Homo sapiens: one gene and its partners. The protein of the gene in region 7 purifies or fractionates together with the protein of the main gene of each other region. This does not show direct contact. Each region holds a gene or a part of one and is shown on either strand. Other genes may lie near its edges.

Region 1 (4,226 bases), on a different chromosome or scaffold from region 7:
GCTCTAGGTATGGATTTCTGTTTTCTGTTCTTTCACATTCTCCTCTCCTACCTGCCCAAGCTATAAGCCTAGGCTGCTTGGTTGTTTGGATGGAGTGTGGGGAAAGGGTAAAAGGAGAAATACAAGATGGGGAAACCTATCAGATAATATTTTTTCAGCATAGTTGTTGGTGTCATAATTATTTTTTATTAGTTCAGGCTCTTTTTTTTTTTTTTTTTTTTTTTTTTGAGACGGCGTCTCACTCTGTCGCCCAGGCTGGAGTGCAGTGGCACAGTCTCAGCTCACTGCAACCTCTGCCTCCTGGGTTCAAGCGATTCTCCTGCCTCAGCCTCCGGAGTACCTGGGATTACAGGCATACCCCACCACGCCTGGCTAATATTTGTATTTTTACTAGAGATGGGGTTTCACCATGTTGGCCTGTCTGGTCTTGAACTCCTGACCTCAGTTAATCTGCCCGCCTCCGCCTCCCAAAGTGCTGGGATTACAGGTGTGAACCACCGTGCCTGGCCTAGTTCAGGCTCTTATTATCTCTCTTCTGTGCTACTGCAGTAGCCTTCCAACTGGTCTCTGCCCCTAGCCTCACCCCCTTCCAATCCCCTGCTATAAGATGGCTCTTTTTAAAGGACAAATCTGGCTCTGACCTATGTCTAAAGTGTTCCTTGGCTGGTGACTGCTCACCAGACCCCATGCCAGGGCCCTAGCATGGTGCCCAAGGTGCTACTGGACCTGGCCCTGTGCCTCCAGGATCCCTTCTGGCCTCTCCCTGGCTGAGCTTTGTTCTCCTCTAAAACTGAACCAAGTTTAAGTTCCCGAACTCACCTCCTCGTTCTTGCACATGCTGTCTCCACTGACTGCACTGCCTCTCTTCTTCAATCTGATGAATTCTCTTTCACTTCTCAACCCAAATCAGCTGTCACTTCCACCAGGACGTCTTCCCTGTCATTCGCTGCTCTTATTCACAGCAATGACCCCCTCCCTCTGTGCATCACCGACCTCTAATTTATTTGACTATATGTCTATCACTTGTGCCAGAACAGCAAACTCTTTTAGAGCATTCACTGCCCTCATACATCTCTGCATTCGCATCACCTAGCTTAGTGCATAGCGCCAAGTAGGCCCACAAGTTAGCCGGACTCGGGAACACATAGGAAGCAGAGTAGGGGTTAATGGGAATACTAGGTGGAGATGACAGAGGCAATGGCAGGGGCAGCAGCTAGAATAAGACTGTTAAGCAGAAAAGGAGCCTGGAAGGAACAAGACGAGGAACTGCTGTAAGGGGAGCGGTACTGCCCCGGCCTGGGGCGCCTCTTCTCCCAGCACCTGGGCGGCCCGGCTCCGCGGCCGGGAACTACAAATCCCAGGATTCTCAGCGGTGTGGACGGGAAGTGTCCTGTCTGGCGGTGCCGACGGTGAGGGGCGGTGGCCCAACGGCGGGAGATTCAAACCTGGAAGAAGGAGGAACATGGAGAGGAGAGCAGCGGGCCCAGGCTGGGCAGCCTGTGAGTGCGGAGAGGGTCAGAGAAGGGTCTCGCAGTGGTGCCGCTGGTCGGGGGCTTGGCTGTCCCGGGAGAGATTGGGGCGTGTGTCGGGCGTGAAGCCTGAGGGGCGAGGGCGGTGGGACTGCTCAGTGGGACGGGAATCCTCAGCCCGGGCGCCGTGGGCCCGAGTGGAACTGTGAGCGGCGCATTGTCCCCTGACTAATGTGCTGCGCTTTAAAGCTTACAAAGAACTTTCTTCCTATTTCCAAGTTCTGGGGTTCCGGAGTCGGGAGAATGTAGGTGATCCTAATGGCTCCTTGAAATTCAGCAGTTACTGCTGGCTACCAAACTTGCCCAGCGATGCCACCGGACAAGACGCCTCAAGGGATCTGGGGGACTCTTAGGCTTTGAGATGCCGCTTTCAGACAATGCCTGTCAAACAGGGGGTGAAATTACCCGGGAAGCTTGTTTGAGATGCAGATTCCTGGGACCTGTCCCAGAGCTTCAGTTCCAGAAGGTCTGGTTTGGGGCCCATAATCTGCATTTATAACAAGCACTGCTGTGCTTCTTCCCTCACCCCAGGTGATTGTGAGGAAGGTAGTCCCTGGGCCACATTTTCAAAGACACTGTTTTAGAGAGAGAGACTGGAGCTGGAAGGATGGGTGGGGCAGAAAGGTTCTATCTGATTTTCTGAATGAAAGGAAAACCTGCTCCTTCCACCACTCCCTTCCTTTCTATTAGGATTCAAAGAGCAAAGTCCATGTCCAGTCTTCTGTTAAAGGAAAACTAGTTCCAGACCTGAGAAGGACAGGAAAACTGTTTTTCGGTTTTTTATTTTTTTGAGACAGCATGTGTATGTACAAAATCCCTCCCATCGCCCACAGTCCTCAGTTCATAACTCTGAGATGATGTCATTCACTTACTGGTTTATTTTCCATGCTTAACAACCAACACTTGTTCCTTGTACACCCCCTTGGAGGAACTGATGGCTTTCCTGTGGTTGGCCAGTGTTTTCAAATCTGTATTTGGAGGGGTGTGTGTGTGTGTGCACGCATGTGTTTTAATTTACTTAACTGCTCATTCATATAAGCTCTGCCCTTCCCTGAATCATTGCAGAATATGCAATATAAGGAAATAGGATAACAACCGGGAATGACATTAAGTGCTGAGTCAAAGACAGATTGGCTAAGCTCTGCCTTTTTTCAAGCTCTCTGAGTTTATTTTCTTACTGTGTGTGTAGCTTTCTCTTACTCTTTCTGTTTGATTTTGTATTGTGTTTCTAAGGAGAATAGAGAGAGGGGAGAGAAGGGAGAAGGATTAAGGGAGACTGTAACTAAGGCAAATTATGATTGCTGTCTCACTTGAGGGATTCTCTATTCTTGAGTTTTGGAATCAGTACTCTGTATTTTATTTAGCTTGAAGATTCTTTTCCTCCTCGGGTGACCTATACCAAAAAGGATAGTGAAGATACCTTTGTGATCTTTTAAAATTTTCTTTGTCCTTCCACTTAATCCCAAGTGAGTGGCATGTTTCCCTCTGTTGGACTGCCTTTCCCTGTGTTCCGCCTATTTATTCCTTAAGATCTAGTTCATAGCTAGAATCCTTTGCTTCCTCTGCTGCTCCCATAGATTTTATGCATGGGCTATAATCATACTTATCATGTTAGATTAATTTATTCAGATGTTTTTCTCTTCTGATAATAATCTTTGGGCGCTGTGGTTCACGCCTGTAATCCCAGCACTTTGGGAGGCCAAGGCGGGAGGATCACTTGAGCCCAGGAGTCCAAGACCAGCCTGGGCAACATGGTGAGAACCAGTCTCAACAAAAAACGCAAGAATTAGCCAGACATGGTGGTGCGCACCTGTGGTCCCAGCTATTTGGTGGTGGGGGGGCTGAGGTGGGAAGATCACCTGAGCCCAGGAGGTCAAGGCTGCACTACTGCACTCCAGCCTGGGTGACAGAGTGACACCCTGTTTCAAAAACAAAACAAACCCACCAATATCTCTGTTGTCCAGGATGGAGTGCAGTGGCACGATCATGGCTAACCGCAGCCTAGACCTCCTGGGCTCAGGTCTAGGCCCAGTAGCTGGGAGTACAGGTTTGCACCATCACACCAGGCTAATTTGTGTATTTTTTGTCAAGACAGGGTCTCACCATGTTGCCCAGGCTGGTCTCAAACTTCTGGGCTCAAGCGATCCACCTACCTCAGCATCCAGAAGTACTGGGATTATAGGCATGAGCCACCATGCAGGCCTTTATCTCTGCATTTCTTAAGAGTAGGGGTCTGCTAGTCCAGTGCCTGGCATAAAGGAGGTATTGATGAATGAATGAATGAGTGAATGATGAATTCTGGTTGGTTCTATTACCTCACCTCTGAGAGAGTAACCAACGAGGATGACACAGGTCCAGTTCTTGGAGAACTCAGTCTAATTAGGGATAAGAAAAGGAGTTAAGTTTCAAGCCAAGGAAGGCTCTGGATGTCCCAGCTGGGAGGTACTGAGGGAAGTTCCATGAGTAGACTTGAGGAGGAAGAGGACAGGAAGATGGCTACAGAGGAAAGAGAAGTAATGCCTCCAGCACAGGAGGAGGCTGCCTATTAAAGGGTATCCTGGGAAGAGAAGGAGGGACACATGGGAGATGTTTCAGGTCTCTGAGCAGGGTTGCCTAAACAAGTCTGTTGAGAAGATGTTTCGGCTGGGCATGGTGGCGGCTCAAGCCTGTAATGCCAGCACTTTGGGAGGCCAAGGC
Region 2 (3,500 bases), on a different chromosome or scaffold from region 7:
GGGAGAGAACTCTCAGCTCGTGGCCCCACTGACCCCGGGTCGGGAGAAGAACGCCTCCGCCTCTAATCAGCCAGTCCTTGAACTTCAGAAAGGAGTGTTACCTAGCTTATGTTTATGTTCACAAACCCTTCCTGGAAACCTCCTATAGTACGGCCAGAACTGGGTGGTGTCGTTTTGCTTCGTTTAATTTGTACATGCTCAGGCTCTCGAGATTAGAATGTAGAGGGCCTGTGGCCACCGTGGGCAGGCTCGGCTGATCAGGACGCACACTCAGTTGGTGGTGGTTGGATTGCAAATATGGAAACACATATAGTGACCGCTCTGTGCAGCTTTACATGTGGCAAGGAGGGCCCTGCCTTTCCGCACACACTTGAATGAAACCAGAGACTGACAAGCTCAACAAGGGCCATCCAGCGCACGGTTTCTTCGTGCCTCAAAGGCCTGCCTGAAATGATGATTTGTGCTGGAATCAAGGTCACAACCCCAGCCTGTGTTTTAAGTCAACAGGATTTCTGGGTGGATTTTCTCCTCTATGTGAGCCAGAGAAGCTTGGAGAGTCCAAGGGCAGCAACGGATTGGTGGCGGCACCCACAGCCCTGACTGTGTGGGGAAAGAGACACACTGCCCCAAGGAAAGCCGCTGGTACCCTGCAGAGCAAGCCCCAGGCTCCTCCTGGGGTCTAGACACGCCACTCCCATTTTATTTCATTGGGACAGGACTGGGGCCCCATAGCACTGAAGCCCCAACTCTCAAGACAGGGTTTGAAAAAGGCTCTTCGGCCCAACGTGGTGGCTCACACCTGTAATCCCAGCACTTTGGGAGGCCGAGGCAGGCAGATCACTTGAGGTCAGGAGTTCGAGTCCAGCCTGGACAATATGGTAAAACCCTGTCTCTACTAAAAAAATATGAAATTAGCCAGGCGAGGTAGTGGGCACCTGTAATCCCAGCTACTCAGGAGGCTGAGACAGGAGAATTGCTTGAACCGGGGAGGCGGAGGTTGCAGTGAGCCAAGATTGAGCCACTGCATGCCAGCCTGGGCGATGGGGTGAAACTCCGTCTCCAAGAAAAAAAAAAATCAAACAGGCTCTTCCTTTCCCTTCACCACTGTCTCCTTCAGACACTGCGGTCCCTCGCGTGCTGCGGCTGCCATCACCAGGGCCAGCAGAAAGCCACTCCCATCACCAGCGCTGCTTCAGGCCAGGGGCTCCGCAGGTGGTCCCGTCCTGCCCACCAAGAGACCTGCCTGGGTTTCACCCCTCGGTGAGAAGTCAGCACCGTATGCCCCCCAGGTCGTGTGACTGTGGGCCCCAGGAGACTTATGGAGCCCAGTGGGGTTTGAGACAAAGCCCACAAAGGGACAGAGCATCTTACAGAGGGAACTACAGGGGCTTCCCAAGGAGGCAGAAGGAGAGGATGGAGGTGGCCTCGAAAGCCAGGTCAATGATTTCCCCAAAGGAATGAAACACACCGTGGGCAATGGTGAGTCTCCCCACACATCCCCCGTGTCTCCATGTCCTCTCCGTGGCCTGCAACCCAAGCCCCGGACGAGTCCTGCAGGGCCTCTCCTGTGTCTGCTCAGCAGGGCAGGGCTGCAGACAGGCCTTCCGTGTGAGTTCCACCCTGCGGGGCTGTGGGACGTGGGGCCTGGACCCAGCCACCCTCCTGGCCTCTGCCCAGCGCAAGCTCATGAAGGTATGGGGGGCGGCGCGAGAGCCACAGGGTCTGGCCTCACCTCACGCACATGTCCGCCTCGTACTTCTTCCCGTAGAGGATCCCCAGCAGGGACGGGTTCTTGTTTCCTCTGAAGTTCAGGGTTACATCATAGACAGCTGCGACTGTGGGAGGAGACGGGAGGGTGAATGACCCAGCCCAGGCGGCTGCATGGTCACTGCCAGAGGGAAAAGCAAGTTCCACCTGGGACCCGGCCCCGTCCTGGGGAGAACGCGTGAGGGGTCTGGCCCCGTCCTGGGGAGAACACACCAGGACCTCTTCTCTAAGTTTTCTTTCCCCCTCTTTTTTCCCCATTCTCTGTTGGTGAGGGCATTTAGTGGCTGACGTTTCCCATGGGTACTGACGCTGTGAGTGTGACCCTGCTGTCTGGCTGTTTTCTGTTCTTTGTCCCTTTCTTTTATTTTGACTCCTTTTGGATTAATAAGATACAATAATGATTATTTTCCCTTCATAAGGTTTTGCATTATGTATTTTTTATTATTTTAATTGTTTCTCATGAATTAGCATTTTATCACCTCAAAACCTGACGCGGGAACCTTGCGGCGCCGACCCCCTCACTTGATTCCTTTTGCACTTCTGTTCTTCTGTGTTTCACATGGAATGCACTCATTTTTTTTTTTTTTAAAGAAATCACTATTTTCCGTGAGCATAGCGGTGGCCCCGGCTCGGGCAGTCTGGGGCCTACCTGTCCCCCGGAGGCACTTGACTGCGGTGGTGAAGCCCTTGGTCCGCGGCAGCAGGTGGTACTTGAGGACAGGAAGCCCCTTAGCAGCCGCCACCTCCATGCTAACGCGGTGCTTGGTCTCCGTGAAGCGCGTCCCCTCGCAGTACAGGAGAAACTAGGATCAACACGGAGACAGGGTCACTCCACAGAGCAGCTGGGGTGGGTGCATGTCCAGGCCAGGCCTGCCTCTCTGACAGGCAGCAAAGGTTGTGGCTGAATTTGTGGAAATCTTGGAACCGCTTTAGCGAGCAGCATGGGTTATGACTGAAAGGTTCTTTTATTCTAGGGCCACAGTCTGCACTCCAGTCACACACGTTCATTCACACAGGAGAGCTCTCCAGAAAGAACTTTCCAGAAAGAAGTGAAACATGAAGGTGTGTTGGGGCAGCAGCCTCTGAGCAGTGTGAAAACAGAGAGGGTTTCATCGACTTGCCACAGCATGAGTTAGAAATGTTAACAGCAGGCCGGGCGTGGTGGCTCACCCCTGTAATCCCAGCACTTTAGGAGGCCGAGGCGGGTGGATCATGAGGTCAGGAGTTCAAGACCAGCCTGGCCAACATGGTGAAACCCCGTCTCTACTGAAAATACAAAAATTAGCCAGTCGTGGTGGTGAGTGCCTGTAATCCCAGCAACTTGGAGGCTGAGAGAGGAGAACTGCTGGAACCCGGGAGGCAGAGGTTGCAGTGAGCTGAGATCATGCCACTGCACTCTAGCCTGGGTGACAGACTAAGGCTCTGTCTCAAAACAAAAAAAAAGAAATGCTAACAGCAGGCTGGCAAGCTGGCTCATGCCTATAATCCCAGCACTTTGGGAGGTCAAGGTGGGCGGATCACCTGAGGTCAGGAGTTTGAGACCAGCCTGGCCAACATGGTGAAACCCCATCTCTACTAAAAATACAAAAAATTAGCCAGGTGTGGTGGCACGCACCTGTAATGTCAGCTACTTGGGAGCCTGAAGCAGGAGAATCGCTTAAATCTGGGAGGTGGTGGTTGCAGTGACCCGAGATTGCACCACTGCACTCCAGCCTGGGCGACAGAGCGAGACT
Region 3 (3,993 bases), on a different chromosome or scaffold from region 7:
TGCCTGGCCCAAAAAGCACGTTTTTTGAATCAATGTCCTAGACTGACATTCTTGCTCCACCATCTAACCAGCTTGTCACCTTGGGCAAGTTACTACTTTGCTCTGAGCCTCGGTTTCCTCTTCTGTAAAATGAGGCTATCACACCTCCATTAGAGGGCTGCTCTAGGACTGGAGAGGATATATACATAAGGGGCAGAAAACAGTACCTGGCTGAGTTGGAACTCAACACTGCTCTCTTTTCTATACTAGTCTTCTGCCTTGGGACAGAATCAAAGAATAAGCATTCCCTGTGACCTCAGCAATTCCCAAGGAGACCTTCAGGAGATAAGGATCAGACAGAAGAAAGCAGACCCTGAGGGATATTCAGGCAAAGAAAATGAACTAGAAACACCTAGAGAACAAGAGACAGTGTGTGTTTAATGAACTTCCTAACTCTGAATGAATGAATTGACAAATGGAAAAAAAGAAAGAACAGGCACTTTCCATCAAAAGATACCAGTCAACAGACGTGAGGATTAATATAATTTTATATTGAACCTGACACAGAAAACTGGTCTTTGAAGATTCACTTTGATACTGAAAGTAATCTACAGTGAGGAGAATTTCCCCATTGCTCTGTTCTCATATTAAGTAATAAACTGTGCAGTTCTCCCCTCTCTTTCCTCAAGGGATTCAGAAAACCTTCCAGAAAACAGAAGCATTTGACTTGAAGGAAAGGCAACTAATATGGCATATAGAAACAAACTCTTCATCCTTTAAAAACAAAAAAACCCTCCATCATTTCTATAATGTCTAGCAGTTTCTGGCATACAGCAAAATTATTATTATTTTAATAAATAATTTCTTTTTTAACTCCAGGCAACTGCTTTTTGTCCAAAACATGCTACGTATTTATTCTATCGAAAAGCCTAATCTTTCCTGCTTCTTCTCCAGAAGCATTCTAACATAACCTCTAATAATGAACATTATGTTTGGTATATGCTGTGTCTAATCTTCTCTCACGATGACATAACTTGCTCTTCAGACCTCCAACAATCAGCCCAAACCAAACTCCTGAATTTTTCCTCCCTCCTCGTCTGTCCCAGCCCCTCGGTTGCTTGTCAGTAGACTCAATTACCACCATCTTCTGATCTGAATCAATTTGTTAATCTCCTTCCTCTCAGGCACAGTGCCTTTTACTGGAGATAAACATGCAAGCAAGTTCAGTTCACCCAGAGCCCTCCACATCCTCTCCCTCCAAGCCTTCACACTCCCAAAGGGGCCCAGAAAAAAAAGAAAGAAATGATATGGCAAAATCCCACTCTATCCACATCACCTCAGGGGGCTTGTTTACCATAACTTTAGACCAACTACCATTTTTGGGGAGAATCTGAAAGAATATTGTTTATGGGCTAGGTAAGAGCTAACAGAAATGGCAGTTTCATTCTTCCAATATGAGACAAGCGTCTCTGTGTGACCCAGCCCTAAAACTCACAAACCTAGACTCCTCAAACTCCCCATACTCCAGAGTTCAAGGATAACCTGCCCTCCATTTTTCCTTATTGTTTTCCATATAAAAGTCACTCGTTGTTTCCCCTCCAGCTTACACCTGGCTCCTGAAATGACTCCTCTGAATCCTCTGAGAATCCTCAAAACATGTAAAAGCCTCATTCCTTTTAATGCATGTGCAGAGCGGTGATGGTGTGAAGACGCTGGCACTTCAAACGTGAACGTGGCACGAGCCCTGCCCTCAAGGAGCCCACAATTTTCCCTCAACTCTAAAAAAGGATGTCCTCCCTGGACAGTGTCTGTAAAACACAGTGACAAAGTACTTCATAGCTCTGGAGAAAGAGCGAGGGTGGAAACAGACTTTGCCCTTACATTTGACGCCCAGTAACCATAACAACCGATGGTTTAAGTAACTATCAACCCACTGAGGGGCTAAGTTTTCCAAAAATCGTTTTCAAAAGGGGAAGACTCCCCTGCACCAACTCCCATGGCAGCCGTACGCTCTAGGCAGCGTGTGGTGCAATGTGGCCAGCCGTTCCCCGCCTTCTCCGGTTCCACCGTATGGTTTCCGTGCTCAGCAGCCAGCAGCGACGGCGTCCACGGCCACACCGCCTCCCCGCAAGGCACCTGGCGCTAGGCCTCAGCCCAATGTCACTTGTTAACCTTCCGATCCCCCGGATTTCGGCACGCCGCCGCCTCCCTGCTAAAGCACACAAACCACCCCACCGCCACCCGCGTTCTCCAGGAGTTGGAGAAAAACCACCGGGGCGCATACAACCTCTGACAGATTCGAGTAAAAGTAACTGCGGTTCTCGACTTTCAAGCATTTCGCGTCGCCGGTGAGGGGGGCGGCAGGAACCCGGGGCCCCATTCATAAAATTGCAAGCCGTTTTCCTCTAGTTTGCGCGTGACGGTGCCTCCCTGCCCGGGGCCGGGGACCGCAGGCTGAGGGGACGGGGCCGGCAGCTCCTCCCGCCGGAGTCGAGCCCGAGCCATCCGGCGGGGCCCCGAAGGAAGGGATTGCCCGGGGGTGTCGCGGGTGGGCGTCCCCTTCAATACCTGAACCATGACAGCGGGGTGGGGGGCCGAGCCCCGCCACGCCAAGGGCCGCCGGACCCGACCGGTACTTTGAAGCCCGCGGGGTCGATCCGCGCCCAGCCCGGGCCTTATCCGCGGGGCGCTCCCTCCACCGCCCCCGCCTGGCCCTGAGACTGCTCACCCAAGATCCGCTGGCTGCCTCATTGTACTATGCCGGCGCCCGTGCTCCCGGCCGCGCGACTCCGGCTTCGGCTGGGGCACCGGCCGCGGTCCTGCTGCCCTGCCGCCCGCCCGCCCCCGGGCACACGCCGCCCCGCCCCGCCGGCGGACCCGCCCCGCGCCCGCGGCCGCCGCCGCCAACCAGAGGGCGCGGGGGCGGAGCAAACGGCACGCCAGGCCCAACCAATCCAGTTCTACCGCGCGCCGAGGTGAGGCCGCGGAAATGGGGGAGCGATTTGTCAGGTCTGTTAAAGGGGCCACCGCCCTTGGAGCTAGGGAGAGGAGTGGTGGGGAGGGTTACCTGGAAGAGCCCCAGGTGAGGGGGACAAAAGCTTCACTCTCCCAACGGGGCTGCACACTGTCCCCAGCTCTTTGCACTTCTTAATTTCCTCTTCCTGCAGTCTAGCAGCAACAAGTGCCCTTGAGACGAGGGCTGGGGGTTGAGGTGGGGTGACTGAGGCGCGGAGAACCAGGGGTATCCCCCTGGGCAAATTCACTCGATTTGCATTTTAGAGGGCCATCAGACGTATCTATCCCCATCCAACTGCAGACATTGATTTAAAAAGGCAAATTCCCAGTTTCCCGCATTATGTACTTCCCCCACCTGACTACCACACTACCACATCCTATCCTGAACTAACTCTGTTACTAGTTTTTTTGTTTGAGACGGAGTCTCGCTCTGTCGCCAGGCTGGAGTGCAGTGCCGTCATCTGGGCTCACTGCAACCTCCGCCTCCTGGGTTAAAGCGATTCTCCTGCCTCAGCCTTCCGAGTAGCTGGGATTACAGGCGCGTGCCACCATGCCCAGCTAATTTTTGTATTTTTAGTAGAGACGGGGTTTCACCATGTTGGCCAGGATGGTCTCGGTCTCTTGACCTCGTGATCCGCCGGACCCAGCCTCCCAAAGTACTGGGATTACAGGCGTGAGCCACCGCGCCTGGCCACGAGTTCTTAGAGCTTAGAACTTATATAGTATTAACTACTCATTTTTAGAGAGGCAATATCTGAGGCTCAGAGAGGTAAAGTGACTTCTCGAGGTAAATTCTCACTTAGAATGAGCTTCCTGGGATGGCAATGCCCATTGTGCATTTATCTTCTGCGAACCTGGGTTGGCTGGCAGAAGCACTGGCACATAGGGAGAGTTCCCCCTTCCCCCGTAGTCCTTGCCCCTCTGCACTTCCCACCCACCACAAGAAAGGACCAAGACAACAAACAGATGTGTCAGTGTGTCTCCTGCATTAGTGGGTCC
Region 4 (3,500 bases), on a different chromosome or scaffold from region 7:
TGTTGGGCATCTAGAAATGAAAGAGGAATGGAAGGTATTCCAGGCTCAGGGACCATATGAAAAAAGATACGAAGGTGGGAATGAAAGGACTTTGGGAGAATAGGAAGTACCAATAGCAAGGACACTAGTCTGACTGGGGCACAGCATACACTAAATACGCTAAATACGCTTGACTAAATACGCTACGGTAGTTACAAAATCTAACAAATCAGGCAAAGTAATTTTGATTGGATTATGTGGAAAGCTGGGGGCTGCTGCAGGTTAGAAAAACAGTGCCATTGGAAAGAAACCGCAGAAACAGGCTCAAGAATAGTAATATTTCTTTTCTTTCTTTTTTTTTTTTTTTTTTTTTTGAGACAAGGTCTCACTTTGTCACACGGGCCAGAGTGCAGTGGCATGATCTCAGCTCACTGCAACCTCTGCCTCCCGGACTCAAAAGATCCTCCCACCTCAGCCTCCCGAGTAGCTGGGAACACAGATGTGCATCACCATGCCTGGCTAGTTTTTTTCCATTTTTTGTAGAGACGGGGTTTTGCCATTGTTGCTCAGGCTGTTCTCAAAATCCTGGACTCAAGCTATCTGCCCTCAATGGCCTCCCAAAGTGCTGGGATTACAGGCGGGGGCCACCACACCCGGCCCAAGAATAGGAACATTTTTTAAGGAGCTTACCTTCAACTGAGAAAGCTACTTCGGTGAGTTGTAGCATATTTCAACCAGAAAAATCAAAATATTAGTTCACTTTGAAGAGACAAACTGAAGCCCATCCTTCTGCAACTTTTGTAGAAACAGACTGACAGACTTAATTCAATTGACCCCAGGCTAGTTGATTGTTTTTATACCATCTAATATAAAATGGTAGCTTAATCCTGCCTGTGCCTTTGTTCATGTAATTTAGTTGAGTACAGTGAAATGAGAAAGAAACTGGAAGTCACTGGGTGTCAATCCTCATCTCTGCCCCTAACTGGCTGTGTAACCTTGAGCAAACCATCTACCTCAGTCTGGGACCACACTAGATCAGCAGGCCTTAACCTCTTAGAGATGATGGGCCTTTTTGAGAATGAGAACGAGGAACCCAATTCCCCTCAGAAAGACATGCTAAATGATACACACAATGTCAAGTGATTCACAAGTTCCTTGAAATCCATCCATGAACTTCAAAGGGCAACAACCCTGAACTAAAAATGTCTGGCCTAGGTGATTCTTAGGGCCTTTCCAGCTTTAAATTCTATGACTTACCCTACTTGGAAAGTACCTTCTTAGTCTCTCGGACAAGTCTGGTCATTCATTTCTTCAAGATAAGGTATGTCATGTCAAGGGTTTATCATAATGCTGAATGTAAGATCCCCTCTAACAATCCTCTCCTCCCACTGAAGATTTCATGGCTACCCAAGTCCAGAACAATCTTTACTTTTTCTAATTTCACACATCATTAGCAATATCTACCACTCAATCTGATACATGATTATACTACCATCACTTCCAAACTTCTGGGTACCACAGTATAGAACACGGACCAGTAGTTCTCAACCATATCAAACCCAGTACCTCTTTCTTATGACAAATATTTTGTGATACCTCTTCATCAACATCAAAGGATAGTCATAATCTACCAACACACCATTTTAAAAAATGATTTCTTACTGGTAATATAAAAGAGTACCATAAAGAAACTAATTTAAAATTTAACAAAATACTTGTTTCAATACATACATTCTCAGAGACAATATTAGCAGACATAAAAGCATGTCTTCAGATTTATAAAATGCCCCTAAGGGGTGAGTACCACCTTACCCTCAATTGAGAAATCTTCAGGCTTAAGGCTGAAAATATATAAAGAAACAGAAAATAGCTTTTGAAGAGCCTGTACTTTAGTTGGATTTAAAATGCATTGTATGTTTTTTAGTTATTGATGTTACATAAATTTAATCTTTTATACATATTTGCCTTAAGTCTTAGAGAAAGAGAAATGCTTTCTAGGTAATCCTCATAGTGCTTAGTACAGACACACACACACGCATGCACACACACACACACACACACACACACACAGTAGGCAAGGCTCAAAGAACATTCAGGTGAGAAGAAACCAGAGAGATCATTTAGTCTAGAGGTTTTCAAATTCTTTCTGCAGGTAGTGAGGGGGTCATGGGTCATCCATTTGAATAAAATCTTATATAGATATAAAAACACAAGCGTAGATGAAAGCAAAAAGCATAGCTGCTCTGGTAGAGGAGGCTATGACAGCCCCTGAAGGGACTCCTTGGAACTTCCAGTTCAGCTGAATATTTGAACCACTGATATTGTCTGAGCCCTCATCTTACAGAGAAGCAAATGAATGGCAGAGCACAAATCGAGCACCCAGTGCTCTTTCAAGTACACTAGCCAGCCTCTGCCCAGTTTTGCCTATCATCTTAAACTATAATACTTCCTTGTCAGGGGTTATACTCAGTCTATTGATAAATTCATTTCAAAAAAGATTTAAACATTTCATTTCACTTCAAAAAAAGAAGAGTTGGTGGTAAGGGTATGATGCTGAGCATCGTACCCATCATTAGGCAAAATATAATGTCTCATAAGAGAAACAACAAAAATTTTCTAGGCTAACAGATCTGGGTTTAAAATGTGGTTCTATGCAGCCATAAAAAACAATGAGTTCATGTCCTTTGCATGGAGATGGATGAAGCTGGAAACCATCATTCTCAGCAAACTAACACAGGAACAGAAAACTTAACACTGCATGTTCTTACTCACAAGTGGAAGTTGAACAATGAGAAAACATGGACACAGGGAGGGTTACATCACACACAGGGGCCTGTCAGGGGATGGAGGGCTAGGGGAGGGATAGCATTAGGAGAAATACCTAACGTAGATGATGGGTTGATGGGTGCAGCAAACCACCATGGCACGTGTATACCTATGTAACAAACCTGCACGTTCTGCACATGTATCCCAGAATTTAAAGTATGATTTAAAAAAGAAAGCTCTATATTAGTGGCTTCATCTGTAAAACAGGAATACTGCTTATATTACCTACTTTATAGTGCTTTTGTGAGAAACCTTTGTCTTCTTCCTCTTAAATTCCATAGGCAATCATACTCAGTCCCTCTTGGTTGTCTCACTTGGTTGTACTTAATCATCTCAACCACAGCCTGGTTCTATCCTATCCAATTCTCCACCTAATCTGTACCTGTACCTATGCAGCTGAATTTGCTGTGAGAAACACATGACTGTGTTGAGTGTCTCACTTTAAACTTGTGATTGCTACCTCAAATGGACTCTCCCTGATGCAGAGAGACCACACCGCACTAGTCCACTCACTGGCCCACTCCTCTGGATTTCATACTTTACTCTCTTCAGACCACCAACATTCCTCATCCAGACTTATTCTCAGCAGCTGACCTATTTTGCAGACAAAACAGCAACAATCCAAAGATAATTTCCACAGACTCTCACTGCTACATCTACCCACCTAATCAAATCTGTGGCCACATGCTGTTTTC
Region 5 (3,500 bases), on a different chromosome or scaffold from region 7:
GCACTAACTTCACTTTGGAGGCACTCATATGCTTCTGCTCAATGAAAGCAGTTGTATCAAATAAAATGTTGCCAACGTGTATTGGGTATGTGACTATAGTCTGTAAAAATGTATTAAATGTATTCAGATTTTGGTATATAAAAATATGGCAAAGCCATCAGACTATGCAATACATTCGTTATATTTCTGGCAAAGCTATGATCTATTTGCTGCCTGAAGCCTGTGACCTCTAAATCTGAGGACCCAGGGTCACCTATACACCCAATAACATAACAGGCTTCGATGGCTGTTCTCTTGATTTTGGTCTCTATGAAATGCACAGCTAAGAATCTGTGGCTTGATACCCTTGCCTTTAGAAAAAAGGCAAATCTAAAAGAATAGTCTTGACACCACTAGTCTTCTAAAGATACCACCAAGAAGGTTATATTTAGCCTTAACCCAGCCACAGGGTTAGGGAGCCCTTTCACGGGACTGGCAAGGACCCTGATGTGAGAAGGAACCACCCTCTTTACTCCTTGTTAGAACGGAAATGCAAGGAGCTTCTGCATGCCCTTTCAACCCCCTCAGGAAGACCTGCTTTCATCCCAGAACATCTTTAGTGATCGCAAGCAAACATGGAGGTGGCGCGTGTATTGGGGATTTTGTTGGCGTGCAGAGGAGTGAGACGAGGAGGAGGGGTGAGGGATCTGGGAATCTGGTGGGGGAAGAAAAGAGTCCAGGGGGCGGCAGGCTCAGAACTCACCCTCACCAGCATGCTGTCAGCAAAGGAGGCCGGGTTGTCCACCTCGGTGAAGGCCGGCGGGCCCGTGCCCATGATCCTCCAGCGCACGTAGAGCATCCCAGCCCCTCCAGAGGTGAGCAGGGTCATTCTGAAGAGGAGGCCCCCGTTCCTGAGCATGCCGAGATTCTGCAAGGACATCGCAAAGCCCCAGAGGTGGCTGATTTTCACATAAAAGTGTGGCTGAGCCAGGTACAGATGTGCAGCAATTCTGCCTGAACTGCTTCAACACTGTGCTTTAAAAGGCTGGTTATTGTAGAATTCAAAATCACAAGGAATATTTGAGAATGGCATTTTAAATCAGCTGGTACTTGACATTTTCCATGTCTGGGCTGGAGATAAAAGTACAGACTCACCTCTAATGACTTGTCCTTATGTAGTACCTTCTGGACAATTTCCAGAACATTGAATTTGCCTATCACCAAGATGTCAAATACCGCATTTAAACCCTAAGAAAGCAAAGCAAGACAATCAGCCACGGGAGAGCTTGGCTGTGTTAGGCAGCAATTACACTTCACAATTTCATTACTCAATCTAGACAAGGAACACATAGACTAGAGAATCACGGAAGACCTCTGCAGCTCTTTAAAAAAACACATAACAGCCGTACGTTTCTATGAAATTAGCTCAAGGTAATAGATCATATTTATTATTTAGTAAGCCCCTGATAGTAATGATTTCACAGTCTGCGTGTAGGAGTTCTACAAGATTCAGGATAGCTAGAAATTTGGGATTCCTAGGAAAAGCCCTCGAGAGATACCCCCTCCCCACTTTTTTTGGTCACTATAAAACAGTCCTTTAGTTCATGCAACAGAGTGTTTTCCTGGGCAGTAATCATACTGGAAGATAAAGGCAGCCATCAACCTCAAAAACCCAGCCATGTAAGTGAACCTTAAGTGCCAGTGCACTTTGGCATCTTTAGAAATGGGATGAACACACATGATAATCTCTAATGGAGCTCTGGAGATCTCTTGTGCAGAAATCTAGTTGTCCAGTAGTTTTCTCGCTGGGTTACAACTAGATGACATCTCCCAGCCTCCCCTGCAGTTAAACTAGGTTGCGGGGCTGAGTTCTAGCCTTATGGAATGTGGGAGAAGCGACACGTACCATTTTGGATGTTTGGTTGTAAAACTTGGGCACACATTCCCACTTGGTTTCCCCTTCCAGCTGGCTGGAATGGAGATGGACAGGGTGACTTTGGAAACCACACATTGATGAGAGCAGGCCTTTGCCAGGCAGGGCCGTGGTGTGGAGGACGGCCACCTCTATCAATTTACAGCTCTGTCCATGACCCATGAGGGGAACAACAAATAACTTCAATTAGCAGTCCACCTATGTTAACAGTTTCCAATAGCACCACGATAGTTACTTTCTAGCCGGTAAAATTAAACCTGTAGTTACAGGCGAAAGGAGAGATGGGCCCTGGATTCTATTCTCTCTCCTGCCATGGACTTTCTATAAATGTCACTGCTGCAGGCAGTGTCATCGACAGAACTCCCTGCCCAATCTGGATAAAGCAGTCTGCACATACTCAGTGGATATTGTTAAAGCTGCCCCTAAATGACTTGGGTCTCTTTAATATGATCTTCTTTGCGGCAAAGGAGATCACACATCATCAGAAGTCAGTGGTAATTTGTGGTTTTCAGAGCAAGGATGACATCCCTACTTAACCCTCTCCCAGAAATGCTGGGAGCCACTAATTATCTAATACATGGGCCAGTGCTGGGTTAATCAGTTCAAAGAATTCTGATTTTATTCACCCATGTGAGACATGATCTTAGTGGGTCACAGAAGACCGTTTCTGCCTGGTTGAAAACCACTTTCTAGAAGGCAGATGCTCCCTGCGTAGCAGCCATTGTCTTCTCACAGTTTTCCTGTGAGCTGCAGGACAGTTACCAAGGGGTGGCAGGTTCATGTGGTGAAGAGGCCTGAGCCAAACACAAGACTGCCCCCTTCCTTCTTAAATGCATCATCAAAATGGCCCCATTTTAATCCAATTTTTGAGAATAGCTACCTTTCACTGTATCTTTATTCATGTAAATTCAACCGAACTCTCTCCTGCTCCTGAAAAACGGCACAGAGGAGGCCTGGCGTGGTGGCTCACGCCTGTAATCCCAGCACTTTGGGAGGCTGAGGTGGGTGGATCACCTGAGGTCAGGAGTTCGAGACCAGCCTGGCCAACATGGTAAAACCCTGTCTCTACTAAAAATACAAAAATTAGCTGGACGTGGTGGCATGTGCCTGTAATCCCAGCTACTCGGGAGGCTGAGGCAGGAGAATTGCTTGAACCTGGGAGGTGGAGGTCGTAGTAAGCTGAGATTGCACCACTGCACTCCAGCCAGAGCGACAAGAGAGAAACCGTCTCGAATAAAAATAAAAATAAAATAAAATAAAATAAAATAAAAAATAAAGTACTGCACAGAGGAGCCTCCCGAGGACCTTGTAGATGGAAATTCCGACTCAGCAGGCCTGGGGAGGGGGTGGGGCCTGGGATCCTGAATTCCTAACCCTCTCCCAGATATTGCTGATGCTCCTGGTCCTCAAACCACACTTCGTATTAGGGAAAGGTTCTAAAACCAGCAGTTCTCAGGGACGATTTTGCCCTCCAGGGGGGTGTTTGGCACTGTCTGGAGACATTTTAGGTTGTCACAATTGAGAGGTCCCACTGGCATCTAGTAGGTGGAGACCAGGGACGCCACTAAACATCCCACAAACCCAGAAC
Region 6 (3,500 bases), on a different chromosome or scaffold from region 7:
AGTATAACTCCAAGGAATGATTATGCTCATAAGTAAACAAGAGTTTCCAAAGACTTGTAACTAAGATGTATAAGACGTAAAGTCAAACTGCAAAACTAGTTCAAAGCAATTAGAGTCCAATAGTTCTCTTATGTTTTCTTTCATTATCTTTATTTTAAATTTGATATTTTAGAATAGGAAATTATCTTTCACAGCAATGCCTCCTGGTCTGATAATACAGTATCTCATTTCTGAATGTAAAGATTTAAAATAAATCAAAATGAACATTAAGGCGTACAAAGCTACTTTAAGTCTGCTCTTAAGATCAGTTTTTGCTCATATTCAAAATACATGGAATGTTGGCACAAAACTGAAGCTGCTGTAGAAAGATCACAGATGTTCTGTGGGTTACTCAAACTTCCATTTCTCTAAAAACATACCCTTACATGGTCTTAATTTTATGAATTTAAGTGTTGAGAAATATCTAAATAATAAGTAACAATTAAAATAAAATGTTTTATTTGTAAATTATGTACAGAATACACTTTACGTTACGCCAATGAAATGGGGAGGGAGGAGGGAGAGCCATCACCTTCCAACAAATGCTGTTCACTTTCTCTGCTGGAGACGACCATCTTTCTCTCAGTCAGACGTACAAATCAGTGTGGATTTCCTACATTGGAAAAATAATTTAGCTAAACCAGAAGTGTTGCTGCATTGTTACTAGTTGGCTTGTTTCCACAAAATAGTTTTGAACTCTGCTAACTCAGAATCTTAAAAGAAATCTCCTGGTATAATTTTATAATGAAAAATAAAAACTATCAAGGACAATGAGTTTACACATCTTAAAGAAACTGTGAAATGGCTACATAACTATGCATAATGTGAAATGTTGGAGTTTCTTTGTTCCTTTTAAAGTTATTTTTGATTAGTCTAACAGTAAAAAGCCATAAAACTATCAAAAATTGCCATTAATGTAAATTTAACTGTGGAAAGTACATCTTTGATAACTGTCAAAATGAATGAGACCTACTTACTGTAAAATTATCAAATGGATAAAACATATTAATGGCTTTAAACTGTACCAATAATAGTGCCAATATTCTATAAAATGAAGGACCGAATATAACTGCTTGAATGTCAAATACATTTCAGTAGATAGATTTAAAGAATGCTACAAATGCCATGTGTTCAATATGGTAATCAGCCAACATAGAAAATCCAACCTCTTGTACTTATTCATTCAGTCCCAAAATTAGTCAGATTATGATTTTTCATGTGAAGATTTAGGTGTTTCTCCATCATTTTCCTCTTCCTCATCCTCTTCACAATCCCCATCTGTTTGCTGTTCCAGTTCCTCTTTTGTTATCATTTCAAAATCATTTCCATTTCCACTACTGTGCTGGGATCGATCATCTTCCCTCCTGTCACTGTCCGTGTCTGAATGCCGTTCTCCCCCCGAGCCTTCTGTTCCATGATTTCCTGGTCCTACTTTCCCCTCCTCATCTTCCTTTTTCTCACTGTCTGACTTTTCCTCACTGTCGGACTTCTGTTGCTTTTTGGTTTCAGACTTCTCATCTTTCTTTAAGTCTGCTTTTGGTCCTTTGTATTCATGTGTGTACAGAGGCCTGAAGGAGTCAATGAAGCCCACATCAGCAGTCAGATTTGGCAAGAACCAAAAGTGGTGCCTTCCTCCAGTTATGAGCCAAATGATGAGAAATAGAATGCATCGAGCTGTGGGGAGAAAAATTTCTCTAATTGAGTAATTCAAACACTGCCTCAGAAGGGAGTATTTGTTAATAAAAAGCTGGGAAAACAGTTTTATTATCTGCACATTTCATACACCTTAAATATTAATATTTAAATCCTGATTAGTGCTGGGCGTGGTGGCTAAACCTCTAATCCAAGCTACTTGGGAGGATCACTTGAGCCCAGGAGCTCGAGGCTGCAGTGAGCTATAATTACACCACTGCATGCCTGAAAACAAAAAATTCCTGACTAGTTTAGCAGCTATCACGGTATTCTAGGGGCACAGAATGTTGCTCTGAACTTGAGGTCACAATGCAATAATGTCACTGAAAAAAATTACTTCTTTTTTCCATCTGGGTGTACACTTACATGGATATACACTTCTGATTTATGTACTTTGTGATATTATGCTTCAATACACATAGCAATCAGTTGGGAATTTAAGTATTCATAAGATCATGGTGTAGGAAAAGAATAAAATAAAGAGATGAAAGGTGTTTAGGAAGGAAGCCTTTAAGAAGGAAAAGCAGGGCTGCATCATACTTCCCAAGGCCCTAGGCCCTTTTGCCTTTGTAAGGCACTTACTCCACAAAAACTATTAAATATTATATTTTCTATACATTTATGACTATATTTTCTGTACATCTGTATAAACACGAATAAAATACTGTATAGGTTTGCTATTACATACATGTATATACATTACTACTTCTGATTTAAAAGAAATAAAAATGAAAATATTTCTGTGGACCCCTATATGTATCTTGGTCCAAGGCACACGTTTACTATGCCTAAAGGATAAATTAGCCCTGGATAAGGAACCCCAGTATTAGAAAGTTTCCATCTTTTAATCCTTGTTTTCTTATTTATTTATTGAGGACAAGGTCTTGCTCTGTCACCCAGGCTGGAGTGCAGTGGCACAATCATGACTCGCTGCAGCCTCAACCTCCTGGGCTCAAGCAATCCTCCCACCTCAGCCTCCAAGTAGCAGGTACGTGCCACCATGCTCCGCTAATTTTTGTATTTTTTGTAGAGATGGGGTCTTGCCAAGTTGCCCAGTCTGGTCTTGAACTCCTGGGCTCAAACTCCCAAAGTGCAGGGATTACAGGTCTATATCTATCATTTATTTATCTAATCTCTCTCTCTCTATCTATCCTCCCTCTCTCTCTACCTATCTACCTACTTTGATAGACAGGTTCTTGCTATGTTGTCCAGGCCAGTCTTAAACTCCTGGCTTTATGTGATCCTCTCACCTCAGCCTCCCGAGTAGTTGGGATCGCAGTTGTGAGTCACTGAACCTGACCTTTTTGTTTTATTAGTTAGGTAAACTATGTAATTTTTGCTTAAAGACCAATCCTCTCAATATTAGGAAAAATACAATGTTAATGAAAGCAAGATCACTTAAATACATAAGGTTTACTCTTTTATAACACTGTATTATGAAAAAACTGTAGAAAAATGGAATTTGAATTTTAAAATTTGTAGTAATGAGTTATCACAAACCCCAATATTTAGTTTTCTCTGAATTTACCAATTATGTAGAGCTGAGTGATTTTTTCCTGTTTTTTAAAAGGTCATGATGATTATGTGAATGTTACAGACTAATCAATTATGACAGGAGTTTTGGTTTTTGTTTTCTTTAGACAATTCTGTCACTGTTTTCATATAAAGCCTGAAATAAGCTAATCTATGTGTCTTCCATTATTTTGCTTTGTATAAATGGAAGAAAATCGTTATAGCTGTCTTGACTTTTAAAAATAGCAATTTTTATT
Region 7 (3,500 bases):
CCTCCCTGATTAAAAAAAAAAAAAAAGTTGGGCTGATATACTGGTTTGCATAATTCAGAAGACACAATGAATTTCCAGTCAAAACTAATAACAAAATGAATAAAAAGACAGATACTCCAATTGGGCAGAAAGAAATTGAATTACTTGCAAATATTAATGTGAGTTTATTTTATAAATATCACAAATATTGAGTTGTAAAATAACAACTTACTTTGTCTAACTAACTGTACCTATAACCAAACTTCAAGTTGTGTTGTCTCATAAAGACAGATGAGAATTAAAAAAAAAAACTTTGAACGGTACATTAGTAATTAATTAAATATTTCCTTAAGGAATTCAAGGTTTTTATATTAATGATGGCTTTACTTTTTAATGAATAATATCCACACATGATTCTTTATGTTAGTCTCAAGTACAGTTAACTATCTTAAAGCAAATAATTAGTGACTAATTTCTCCATTATATTTTCCTTTTCGACATACAGGAGACAGTGGCAGCCAATATAAGGACATTTATTAATGGTGACCTATTTCTTATTTAATACAACATAGCTAAGAAAAAGAACTTCATCGGTTGGGCACGGTGGCTGAGGCCTGTAATCACAGCACTTTGGGAGGCCAAGGCGGGCAGATCATGAGGTCAAGTGTTCGAGACCAGCCTGGCCAAAATGGTGAACCGCCTTCTCCCGTCTCTACTAAAATTACAAAAATTAGCCAGGTGTGGTGGTATGTGCCTGTAATCCCAGCTACTTGGGAGGCTGACCAGGAGAATTGCTTGAACCTGGGAAGCAGAGGATGCAGTGAGCCAAGATCGCACCACTGCACCCCGGCCTGGGCGACAGAGAGAGACTACGGCTCAAAAAAAAAAAAAAGAACTTGATCATGACTTGTGGAACACAACTATTAAAATTTCTATTTTAAATATTATTCATGCATCAAAGCAATCATGTATGTGTAAATGAGAGCCATAATTCTAATTCTGTATTGAAAATTATAGCAAGAAAGATTTCAGACTAATCATCATTCTATGATGAAAATCACTTTATATTCATATTTTAAATTATTGTGGCTCAATCAATGAAATAACTTTTTAAAATAAAGCAAATCTTTACCATTTAAGAAAACATATTCTCTAAAATTAAGAATGTAAATTCTGAAGGACTTATAATGCCCAGGAGCTTCTCCGGGCATTTTAAGAGCTTCTTCGGGCATTTTAAGGCCCTTTTCCTGAAGGGAGTCTGCTGGATAATGCATATTTCAAGTGAATGATAATTATTTTATTGCTCAAACATGGCTTACTAACTTTATTTAGCTCTTCTTCAATTTTACAGGAATTGAGATGAAGAGCAGGAAACTCTTCTTCTTTCACTTTTTGAATGATGTCATAAACTAAATGATAATCTTCTGCAGTAACAGTTGAAAGGTTGATATGATGGGGAATAATATCCTGACTAATGTTCCCCATTTTCAAAAATTTCATGATCGTCTCTGAATTTCTGAAAAATAAAACAACATACAAATGAGCACATAAGAGTTCTTTGGTGTATAGTTTGTGAACGACTATGCCATTATAAGCTAATGAATGAGCAATGTTCCCAACACAAAGAAATGATTAATGTTTGAGGTGATGACTATCCCATTTACCCAGATTTGACCATTATACATTGTATGTTTGTGTCGAACTATCACATGTATCTCATAAATATGTATAGCTATCATGTATCAATAAAAGTATAAATAACAAGATAAAAACTAAGAAAAAAGGCAAATGGAAATTAATATTCATACTGTGTAATGCATTTCTCATTTATGACATTTGCTTTGAAGCCCAGAACTGCAAACACCACCAATGTTGCCAGGACAGAAGTGAAAAAATTGATGAAGGACACCAGGACAGCATCAAAGTGGCAGTTGTTGTCTCTCTTGTTGTAGCTTGAAAAGGCAATGACACCACCAAATCCCAGACCTAAGGCAAAGAACACTTGAGTAGCAGCTTCTCTCCAGACCTTGGGCTCCAGCATTATTTCAAGCTGTTTAAAAATAAACATAATAGAATCAGCTACAAAATAATGTTTCAGAATAATTAATTTTTATGGAATTTACTGTTTATGGAGTATACAATGATATTTATGCATCCAAAGTTTATTTAAATCGGGAAATAATATGTTCTTAAGCATAAACATCTATTTTTAGGAAACAAATAATTATGAGTAAGAAAGTTGATCAGTCCTTTACATGGAGATTTTAAGTACATGGGGATTTTCTACTTACATGGTGGTTTTTAAATATTTTAAGAATATCAAAGGAAATATGAAATGAGAATATGAAGAAAAATTAATTATCCTCAATCATTTCCCATTATGTCTTTTTTTCTTTCCATAGCAAAACAGGTCAATTACCAATAAAAGTTAATAGTTGCTTCACTAACACTCCATGTTTTGTGTTTTCTGCTGTTAATCTAATGGTCGAAGCAGAAAACAATTATAAACTTCGCAGAGTTGAACTATTTGTACTTTGCATATTCACATATGTATTCTTCATTCATTCAAAAGTCTGCTAAAAGATTTTTCTTTGAAAATTGAAGAAATTCACCTATATTGTCTATAAGATACTCTTTCAGATCCAAAGTTCTGACATTGAACAGATATTAAATATTGAACAGATATTTCATGTAGTTGTGCTTTATGTCTTAGATAATTATCACTGTATATAATCAAAACTTAAATGAAACAATTCAGATCAGCCAAGTGTGGCCCAGATCTTAATAAACAGTTCCTTTTGATTTCAGTAATAATAGCGTTTAAATTGGCATTTTATCTCTTTTTGCCATTACAATCAAATTGCCTTTATTGAGAGCAATGTCAAACATGACTAAGAACACGAATTCTACAGAGAGTTTCAGATTCTGATTCTGCCATTTAGTAATTTTAAAATAGTGCAAACAATGGCAAATGGCGTGTCCTCTCTGAGTTTCAGCTTCTTCAGAAAGATCAGAATAATAAGAAGTGTACCACTTACCACGGTGCCTACCACACTCTAAAAATGCTCAGTAACCGATAACATAGATGAGCTATAGCGGCATACACACCGGTAAGCATTTTATATGGTTTAACTCATTTAGTACTCACAACAACCCACGAAGTTGTTGCCACTATTAACTGATTCTTAGGAAGGTTATGTAACTTGCCTAAGTTTACACAGCAGCTCTGAGGTAGAGATGAAATAAGAACATAGGTAGATTCCAAAATCCATATTCTCTCAAACAATAGGATGTATTGCTTCAACTAATTTTGGTTATTAAAATCTATGAAATATGCTTATTAAACATAATCATGATTATCTTCATAATTTATGAACAATTAACATATGCACATTGTTTACTGACCATTGCTACATCATATTCTATTAAAATACACTCAACTGTCTATCTCTGCTTTAGCCACTAGATGGCAGAAAAGACCTATTAACTAAAGACATTACCAGCAGCCCAGTTTCTGAACT

The links.
Region 1: the proteins of SLC6A15 (region 7) and IQGAP3 purify together in Homo sapiens (affinity purification with mass spectrometry; one large-scale study listed by BioGRID and IntAct). This does not show direct contact.
Region 2: the proteins of SLC6A15 (region 7) and AGPAT3 purify together in Homo sapiens (affinity purification with mass spectrometry; 3 studies listed by BioGRID and IntAct, with this or other methods). This does not show direct contact.
Region 3: the proteins of SLC6A15 (region 7) and TEX2 purify together in Homo sapiens (affinity purification with mass spectrometry; 3 studies listed by BioGRID and IntAct, with this or other methods). This does not show direct contact.
Region 4: the proteins of SLC6A15 (region 7) and ACSL4 purify together in Homo sapiens (affinity purification with mass spectrometry; 3 studies listed by BioGRID and IntAct, with this or other methods). This does not show direct contact.
Region 5: the proteins of SLC6A15 (region 7) and TMTC4 purify together in Homo sapiens (affinity purification with mass spectrometry; 2 studies listed by BioGRID and IntAct, with this or other methods). This does not show direct contact.
Region 6: the proteins of SLC6A15 (region 7) and SEC62 purify together in Homo sapiens (affinity purification with mass spectrometry; 2 studies listed by BioGRID and IntAct, with this or other methods). This does not show direct contact.

Annotation. Positions count from the first base shown.
Region 1 is NC_000001.11:156,569,766-156,573,991, reverse strand, and holds the start of IQGAP3 (ras GTPase-activating-like protein IQGAP3), read left to right. Parts: upstream 1-1,426; 5' UTR 1,427-1,462; coding exon 1,463-1,499; coding exon of another isoform or gene 1,500-1,514; intron 1,515-4,226.
Region 2 is NC_000021.9:43,969,723-43,973,222, reverse strand, and holds part of AGPAT3 (1-acyl-sn-glycerol-3-phosphate acyltransferase gamma), read right to left. Parts: intron 2,571-3,500; coding exon 2,417-2,570; intron 1,836-2,416; coding exon 1,733-1,835; intron 1-1,732. UniProt on the Homo sapiens protein: Converts 1-acyl-sn-glycerol-3-phosphate (lysophosphatidic acid or LPA) into 1,2-diacyl-sn-glycerol-3-phosphate (phosphatidic acid or PA) by incorporating an acyl moiety at the sn-2 position of the glycerol backbone.
Region 3 is NC_000017.11:64,260,461-64,264,453, forward strand, and holds the start of TEX2 (testis-expressed protein 2), read right to left. Parts: upstream 2,801-3,993; 5' UTR 2,708-2,800; exon of another isoform or gene 2,267-2,707; intron 1-2,266. UniProt on the Homo sapiens protein: During endoplasmic reticulum (ER) stress or when cellular ceramide levels increase, may induce contacts between the ER and medial-Golgi complex to facilitate non-vesicular transport of ceramides from the ER to the Golgi complex where they are converted to complex sphingolipids, preventing toxic ceramide accumulation.
Region 4 is NC_000023.11:109,684,758-109,688,257, forward strand, and holds part of ACSL4 (long-chain-fatty-acid--CoA ligase 4), read right to left. Parts: intron 688-3,500; exon of another isoform or gene 670-687; intron 1-669. UniProt on the Homo sapiens protein: Catalyzes the conversion of long-chain fatty acids to their active form acyl-CoA for both synthesis of cellular lipids, and degradation via beta-oxidation. Preferentially activates arachidonate and eicosapentaenoate as substrates.
Region 5 is NC_000013.11:100,636,796-100,640,295, forward strand, and holds part of TMTC4 (protein O-mannosyl-transferase TMTC4), read right to left. Parts: intron 2,060-3,500; coding exon of another isoform or gene 1,886-2,059; intron 1,228-1,885; coding exon 1,135-1,227; intron 908-1,134; coding exon 743-907; intron 1-742. UniProt on the Homo sapiens protein: Transfers mannosyl residues to the hydroxyl group of serine or threonine residues.
Region 6 is NC_000003.12:169,990,807-169,994,306, reverse strand, and holds part of SEC62 (translocation protein SEC62), read right to left. Parts: intron 1,714-3,500; coding exon 1,244-1,713; 3' UTR 1-1,243. UniProt on the Homo sapiens protein: Mediates post-translational transport of precursor polypeptides across endoplasmic reticulum (ER). Proposed to act as a targeting receptor for small presecretory proteins containing short and apolar signal peptides.
Region 7 is NC_000012.12:84,871,300-84,874,799, forward strand, and holds part of SLC6A15 (sodium-dependent neutral amino acid transporter B(0)AT2), read right to left. Parts: intron 2,030-3,500; coding exon 1,788-2,029; intron 1,496-1,787; coding exon 1,303-1,495; intron 1-1,302.